2 separate regions of the Homo sapiens genome follow, and region 1 is linked to region 2. The links come from fine-mapping of genetic effects on gene expression. A gene starts in region 2. The other region holds a variant in brackets. All regions are shown on one strand. Distances are from middle to middle.

Region 1 (4,349 bases), 92 kb before region 2:
GGTGAATTGCCTGCCATCAGAGGAAAGGGGAGTTTATTAGCTAAGTTCTACTACAGAGATCATAAAGCCACGTCTTCAGATAAATCTACTACAAAGGTTTCCCAAAATGGAGTCTCCAGGACACTCGTCTCATTAGATGTTTACGTGGGGACCAAAAGGGTGGTTCTGGTTAAAAAAGTTTCAGAAATGCTGCATATTATGGCTTCCTCTGTGATGTAACACTTAGTATCAGCTGTGCACATTGGTCCTGCATTAAACCTCTCTAACTTTGTTTTACCCCAGATCTCATCGGTCTCTGGTGGAGATCTCCAACATGCAGCAAGAATAGACTACAAGAGTGAGTGTCAAGGCTGCTCAGTTACGAGCGGTCTCCTGTGTTTCTCCCAGGGAGTTTTGCAAACATTTTATCTAGTCTGTGATACAAAGAAGCCTGGGAAACACTAGGTCATGGAATACTGATTTCAACTCTAAATCCTTTTTCTAGAACTACCAAGGGGTAGAAGGGTGCTGAAATCACAGATTCTTGGCTAAGAACTGTGATTTTTCTTTTTTTTTTTTTTTGAGACAGAGTTTCCCTCTGTTGCCTATGCTGGAGTGCAGAGGTGTGATCTCGGCTCCCAGGTTCAAGCAATTCTCCTGCCTCAGCCTCCCAAGTAGCTGGAACTACAAGTGCATGCCACCATGCCCGGCTACTTTTTGTATTTTTAGCAGAGACAGGGTTTCACTGTGTTGGCCAGGCTGGTTTCAAACTCCTGACCTCGTGGTCCATCCGCCTTGGCCTCCCAAAGTGCTTGGGTTTACAGGTGTGGACCACGGCGCCTGGCCAGAACTGTGATTTCTTAATGCTGACCACTGTCCATGGTGAGTGCAGAGAAGGTGTCCAGGTGTAGTGGGAAGGAAGATGTTCTACTTTTATTTTCAGGATCCCAGAAAATCCACATCACAGTGGATGGGGCTCTGGTCTAGATGCAAGGCTCCATCTTCCTGGTATCCTTGGACACTCATGGTCCTGTGAGTTACAGCATCTGAAAGACATCTTCCAACCTTGGATGCCTCTGCTTGTTTAGTCAAAGCCTCCTTGGGCACCTCAGTCCTTAGCCAGTCACGGCCAGTTAATTCTCTCCCTTGAAAACAGCAGGAGGGCTATAAGGGCACTACAGCCTGGCTGATGCAGGCATTCCCTTGGGAAGGAAGAGTGACATTCATGGCCACTGACCATCGGCCCTCAGATGTGTGTATGCTCAGCCTCCGTGGCATCCCAGGCTGCAGGGGAGGAAGGGCAAAAGGACCTGATGATGTTATCTTCTCCCCACCGTGCCCAGCAGTTGACAGGTGGCTGCCAGTGGGGCACCCGGGGGCCATGCTTACTCCTGCCCTGCCCATGGAGTGTGGGTGTGCCAACCCGGGCTGAGTGAGGTGCACTGTGTCCCCCATCAGCTCTGTAAGCTCCATGTCTTGGGTCATTGCTGTTGCCCAAGGGAAGAACAGGTCATTGGCCCAGTCAAAGCTTACCCCTTGCTCTGTGGACCCCTGTGCTTAGTGCCGGAAGGGCTCTGAAGTCAGGCTCTCCCTTCCGGTGTCAGGGCAAAGCAATGAGGCTGTGGAGAGTGGAAGGCTGAACCGTGGACTAACGGTGCAGGGTACCAGGTCTCCCAAGGAGGGGGATCCTAGACAGGCACTGACCCAAAGCCAAAGCTGTCCTGCTCCCTCCCCACTGGTGCTATCCACCTGACCCATCTCTAATCTGATGCTGGTTTCCATGGGGTACTTTTCAGGGTCTAGGGTATTGGGTAATTAGGGGCCAGTCTCCAGCTCTTCAACTGAAAAAGGCAGTGAAAGGCCAGGCTCCACCTTCCTCCCAAGGGCTGGGGTGTGTGCCTGTATCCTCAGTACTGGCTGAAAACCCCAAGGGCTCCTGGCCATCCGCCCTCCCGGGGAATGCGATGGGAATTTATGAGCTGTGATCATGTTCATGTTTACTTCTCAGAGACTGATGACTTGTCCACACAGCCACATCCAGGTCCTGCTTCAGCTAAGAGTCTGTTTATTTGGGAGAATTTATC[A/C]AACCCAGACACAGGCTTTTTTCTGCTACTGAACCAAGACAGGTGGCCCTGGAGTTGAGATAGCCCTAGAGCTGACTCTCCTTGGATTGGAAAGAGCTGTGGGTGCAATTTAGCAAGACCTTGCTTCAAATGTGGTTGTGCCGCTTGCTGGCTACGTAGCTGTTTTCCTTTTTAAGGCAGAGATACTGATAATGAGAAAAAGCATGGTGTATTTGGTGTGCCTTAAAGCCATTCAATGTCGAATGCAGTTGCTGCTACATATTGCCAGACTCAGTCCATAACCATATGTCCCCAAATAAATTCTCAGTTAATATTTTATTTGGTAAAAATATTATTGGAAAACCTATAAACAACAGATGACAAGCACAATGATACGTGTTTCTGCCAATTCAAGGATTGTCCTTCCTGGCTTGGTATCTGGCACAAGTCCTTGCAAACTTGCAAGTTTCAATAACTAGTCAGAGCAAAAAAAAAAAAAAAAATTTTTTTTTTTTTTTTGACACAGAGTCTTGCTCTGTTGCCCAGGCTAGAATATAGTGGCGTGATCTTGGCTCACTGCAACCTCCACCTACCGAGTTCAAGCGATTCTCCTGCCTCAGCCTCCTGAGTAGCTGGGACTACAGGCACCCTAATTTTTGTATTTTTAGTAGAGGCAGGGTTTCACCATGTTGGCCAAGCTGGTCTCAAACTCCTGACCTCCAATGATCCACCCACCTTGGCCTCCCAAAGTGCTGGGATTATGGGTGTGAGCCACAGAGCCCGGCCAAGGGCAAAATTTATATGTGGAAGGCAGTATAATTACAGAATCCTCCCCAGTGCATAGTTGCGGCCAGCCCCTGTGAAATGAATATTATCTGTGAGAATTTTAAATATGTCTGAATTACTGTTCCATTCTATAAACGACCACAGTTATTCTTAGCGACCTCTTCAACAGTTTGCTGTTCCATCTTTCTGGAAGGCCATTCCATGACTCTGCAAGGCAGGTTCATTCTCATCCTGGTTCCTGTGTCATCTCTGCAGATGTGTTCCCTTGTCACCCCATAAGTCACCTCTCCTAATGAGGCTGTTGCATCACCTGCTTCTCTTCAGTGCCTTATAACATTGTTGGATTTCCTTATTAATGGCTAATTTGTTCTTTCTTCCACTAGACTAAAAAACGGGGACTCTATCTCTGGTTTTTACTGCCATAGCCCTAGTGCCTAATACTGTGCCTGACACACAGTAAGTCCTCAACAGAGTCACTGCTGAATGAAATAACACATTCTAAAGCTAATATACGCTAATGTTTTTTTGAAAATTATAAACTAATGAGAAATGGGAAAAAGTCACCTATAATCTCACCACTCAAAGACAACTTGCATTTCTATTTTAGTGGCATGATTTCTTAAACCTGGTTATAAACACTGTATTTACTTTAACATTTTAAAAATATTTAAATTGACAAAATTTATATTGAACATGTACAACGTGATCTGAAATATGTGTACACTGACATGGCTAATTAACGATGTATCACCTCACATACCATTTTTTTGTAGTGAGAACACTTAAAATCTATTTTTAACAATGTTCAAACATACATTGTATTGTTATTAACTGTAGCCACCATGATGTCCATTAGATCTCCTGAAGTTATTCCTTGTAACTGAAATATTGTACCCTTTGAACAGCATCTTCCAATACCCCTTCCAAGTCTCTGGTAACTGCCATTCTACTTTTTGGTTCTTTTAGCTCATTTTTTTTAGATTCTACATTTAAATATTAATAAGATCATGCAGTACTGGTGCCTGGCTTATTTCACTTAATATCCTCCAGTTTCATCCATTTTGTCACAAATGATGGTATATCCTTTTTTAAGGGTGCATAGTATTCCACTGAGTATATACACATCATGTTCTTTATCGATTCATTCATTGACAGACACTTTAGTTTGATTCCCTATCTCGACTATTGTAAGTAATGCTTCAGTGAACATGGGAGTGTAGATATCTCTTCGACATACTGACTTTGGATGTATACCCAGTAGTGGGATTGCTGGATCATACAGTAGCTCTGTTCTTAATTTTTTGAGAAAACTCCATACAGTTTTCCATAATTACTAATTTACATTCCCACCAAGTGCACAAGGGTTCCCTTTACTCCACATCCTCACCAACACTTATCTTTTGTCTTTTTGGTAATAGCCCTTCTAACGGGTGTGAGATGATATCTCATATTCATTTTAATTTGCGTGTCCCTGATTAGTGATGTTGAACATTTCTAAATATACCTGTTGACCATTTGTAT
Region 2 (4,392 bases):
TGGAAAACATGTGTTGCCATGCACTTACAAACACCACTTTGTAGAACTGTTTTCTTTCTCAGAGAAATGCGAGCTAAAAGTGAATCTGCAGACCCACGTCAGCCTCATTCCAAATATCCTCAGTGCTACTTCCCAGACTGGGAAAACGAACTACAACCGATCACCCCAACAGTGGATTAATTTACTATCTTGATAGATAGGTTAGATTCCATTTTGATGTTTTTCTCAGTTGTTTTATATCACTCTCCAAATTCCAACTGAAGCTAACCAAAGAATTTAGAGTTCTACCTGGCACTCTCTATTCAAATTTCAGAAGAATTCAGTAGTCAATGAGAATTGACTGAATTCTTAGGCAGATGCATTCCATCTTGACCACAGGCCAAGTTCTGAAGTTCATGGAACTTCAGAAGATTCCAGTGGTCTATAATCAAAGAGGACCTCCTGGCCTGGTTCACCTCTCCACTCCTCAAAGCATTGCTACCCAGGATTTTACCAGCAGCAGAACCCCAAGCCCTAGTAAACCTTTGCTATTTCAAAGAACCTGGCAGCTGATATGAGACAGTGAAGCAATCCCGGGCTACATTCCACACCATTCACATCTTGGCATTTGAGCAAATGAGGAAGAGGAGAGAGTGGACAGCTGGTCAACTTCTAACCTGCACCAGGTGCTTTGCATGAGTTACGTTCCTCACTCAACCAGCCCTGTCTCTCACTTTACACAGGTGAGGCTATGGAAGTTCTTGAGAAGGTGTCAAGAAATGCGCTCAGAATCACGGTTAGGAAGGGCAGAGCCAAAATGCCAGCCACAGACTGATTTCAAAGATTGTTTTTCTCACCGTCCCAATCTACTCCCACTGAGGCCAGTTTAAAAACCCAAGTCAAAGGGACTGTTGGAGGGCGCTTTGAGCTTCTGTCTGCAATGCTCTTCTGTGTACAAGGCACAGAAACCTTCCCTGTCTTTTAAACCGCCTTAACCAGGGGTAGTCAGGATGTCTGTAGAGACGTCAGACGGAGCAAGAAAGATCCAAGAAGGCAAGGGGTAGGCGCCCCAGGGGCATTCTCACTTGACACCGACAGGCTGCCCGGGGAGTTACCGGCCTGGCTCTAGGTAACGGCGACCTCGGGAGGTGGCGCAGAGAGAGAGAGAGGTGGCGGCGGCGCCGCCGGGCTCACCTGAGGAAGAAGAAATAGGAGTAGTCCTGGACCACGGTGTGGGAGTGGCACGAGAAGTAGCCCAGGCCGGTGAGGTTGAGCCTGGAGCCGGCGGGCACCTCCAGCATGCTGCCCCACGCCTGGTCGCACAGCATCTCGACCTCGGCCGAGTAGAAGAGGCCCCCCTGGCCGGCGTGGTACTGCCAGGGCAGGTGGTTGTAGAGGCCGGGCGCCTCGGGGTGCAGCGCCAGCACCCTGGCGTACACGATGGTCTCGGCCAGCTCGGCGCGGCAGCCCTCGCTCAGGGGCCTCCACTCGGAGGGCAGCTGGCAGGCGCGCGCGGGCGCTGGGGGACCCGCCAGGCAGAGCGCGGCGAGCAGCAGCTGGCGCAGCATGCCGGGCCCTCCCGGGGCGCACGGGGCGGCGGCGGGGAGCCCGGGGAGCCCGCCGGCCCGGGAAGGGCAGCCCTGGGCGCTCGGCTGCTCGGGCCGCTCCCGGGAGCTGAGCGCACCGCTGTCTCCGCCACGGGGCTCGGCATGCCCGGCCCTGGCGCGCCACGCTTTAAAAGGGTCCCGGGGACTGGACGCGCCGGGCGCCCGCCTCCCGCCCTGCCCCCTGCGGCTGGGGCGTGGGCGGGGGAGGGGCGGGGAGTCGGGCGGGTCCCGGCGCCGGCTGGGGCGGGGACCAGGGACTCGGAGAACGCGGGGACGCCGGGACCCAGCCCTGAATTGGGGACAGTGGCCCAGCAATCTCCTGGCGCCCCACGATGGACGTGGTCCGAGCTTGCCAGGCGTAAAGCCTGTTTGCAAACGCAAGGCATTCATTAAAGAATGACTCTTAATTTGCACGATTACTGCCTAAGTTTTTACATTTTCTCTACATTTCAGAGTAAAAATACATAGAAACCAAATCTGACTTTATATTCCCAGAGATTAGGAAATTCAGTGTGGGCTGAGATCTCGTGCTCTCTCAGATTTGCTAGTTATTTAATGAAGATCTTAGAAAAGCTTTGATAAAAGATTCCAAAAAGCAATCATTTGGCCCTGATTTTCTTGGTTTCCATAATCCCTGATTCCATTTTCTAAACACTGTACACCTGAGAAATACATTCAGAAGTAAATCCCAAACAGCTTTTCACATCAGTGAGTGAATTTGAGGATACTGACTCCACAGTTCCATCTTTATCTCTAAAGGCAACAGGTTTTTTGTTTTGTTTTTTGTTTTTTTCTTGAGACAAGGTCTATATCTGTCACCCAGGCTGGAGTACAGTGGCTCCATCAGGGCTCACTGCAGCCTCGACCTCCCCTGGGCTCAGGTGATCCTCCCAGGTCAGTCTCCCAAGTAGCTGGGAATACAAGCACACTGCCACCCCGGATAATTTTTTGTTTTTAGTAGAGACAGGCTATGTTGCTCAGGCTGGTCTCAAACTCCTGGGCTCAATCGATCCTCCCACCTCAGCCTCCCAAAGTGCTGAACTTTCAGGCGTGAGCCCCCACATCCACCCTGAATATTTAAATTATGCAATTTCATAATGCTATTAGTCTCCCAGGGCTGCCATAATAAAATACTCTAGTCTGGTGGCTTAAATAACAGACCTTACTTTCTCAGAGTTTTGGAGGCAGGAAGTCCAAGATTAAAGTGCTAGGGTTGGTTACTGGTGAGGCCTCTCTTCCTGGCTTACAGACGGCCACCTTCTCACTGTGTCCTCACGTGGCCTTCTCTCTGTGTGTGATGGAGAAAGAGTGAGCCCTGGTCTCTTCCTCTTCTAACAAGGTCACTAGTCCTATGGGGTTATCACCCCACCCTTATGTCCTCATTTAATTACCTGCCTGAAGACCCTATTTCCAAATACAGTCACATTAGGGAGTTAGCACTTCAACATATGAATTTGGAGGTGGGAGGGGAGACATAATTCAGTCTATATGAGCTATTTAGCAGGTGTTCTGCAGGTTTGCTAGAGAAAGAGAGCAGGGATCCCAAATGGTTTATATTCCTGGCAGGCAGACTCACAGCACACACTGCCAAGTTATAATAAGAATTGCTAAACCTTAGTCATTGTTGACCATGGGCCAATCACTGTTGTAAGGACTGTACATATGTCATCTTAATAAATTCTCCAAACAATATTCTGAAGTAGATATAACTATTATCCTCATTTTACAGATAACAGGCACAGAGAAGTTAATTGACACCAAAGATCACAAAGCTACAAGTTGACCAAGCTAGGATTCAGCTCCCAGCAATCAGACTCCAGATCCATGTACTTAACTACAACACTAGAATAGGGCCAAATATAGGAAATGCTCTAAAGACACAGGTCGGCCCTTTAACCAGGATATACACAGAGCAAATTAAGAGAAAACCTTAGCAGAGTCACCAATGATGGCTCAAGGAGTGTGCAACTGACCTAACATTAATTTTGTATGACCCAGAATCCCTGCTCTATTTTAGTCCTATACTGTAACTCATCAGATAAGATAGTAAGAAAGTTTTTCTTACTAACTGCATCTTCAAGTGTCTTGAAGGCCTGGAAAAGATTTGTCTACCCCAAAAGACTGTAAGGCCCTCTCTTTTCTTTCCACATAGGTGAGCAAATAAATAAAAATCAGCAAACATGGCTGTTTTTTCTCTTGTTGTATAAACTTGACAGAATCAAAACTCTTCCAATACTTCCCACAGTGTATTTTGCAGAAGTGAGCACCTGCAAGAAATCGTCCTCATGGATTCAGCAGACACATCAGTCATGCTTTTCTCCCCTGTAAGATCTGGCAGAGTGCCTCACTGATTGGGTTTCTCTTCCTGATTGAGCCATTGCAGTGTACCGTAGTGAGCAGTTCCTCTTTGGGGACTAAGACTTCCAAACAAGCAGAGCTCAAGGTAGCCAGGAGGGGAAACAAAACTTCTGTGAGTGAATTATTGGGTTTAATAGTGACATGAGCCACTTCCATCTCTTGATTCCGAGACCTATATGTCCTGGCTGTGGGGTGGATAGTACCGTATATGTATGTTCTGTTTCAAAGCACACACAGTAAGTACACTTTAAGATGGACTCCATCATTTCAGTGTGGTGACTCCCAACTGACACTATAATTAAGTCTTCACTAAACTGTTACATCCTTCAAAATTTGTCCAGTTGCTTCCAGGTGATGGGACATGTGGTAAAACCAGTTAATTCTATGGCCTTGAGACCACTGCTGCACTTCATTGCTGTGAAAGAAGCAATGCTGTGGGAATCATTGA

Direction of the effects. Positions count from the first base shown, and alleles are read on the strand shown. Sizes are in standard deviations (SD) of each study's normalised expression.
For the expression in lung of the gene that starts at base 1,690 in region 2, A is the low allele of the variant in region 1 and C is the other (moderate effect, 0.47 SD a copy in GTEx).

The links. PIP is the estimated chance that this variant, and not a neighbour inherited with it, causes the effect.
Region 1: its variant is fine-mapped to the expression of CCDC3 in lung (GTEx, PIP above 0.99).

Annotation. Positions count from the first base shown.
Region 1 is chr10:12,908,067-12,912,415 of GRCh38, forward strand. All of the region lies in intron 2 of CCDC3 (coiled-coil domain containing 3), which reads right to left. It overlaps LOC105376418 (a long non-coding RNA gene), which reads left to right. Exons shown (of 3, transcript XR_001747367.3): 2 at 283-337. Among named protein-coding and RNA genes, the nearest start is that of CCDC3, 91 kb to the right of the region's middle. The variant A/C (reference allele first, on the strand shown) is at 2,064.
Region 2 is chr10:13,000,024-13,004,415 of GRCh38, forward strand. It overlaps CCDC3 (coiled-coil domain containing 3), which reads right to left and starts at 1,690. Exons shown (of 3, transcript NM_031455.4): 1 at 1,174-1,690. The coding sequence starts at 1,547. RefSeq lists enhancers at 819-1,319, 1,320-1,820.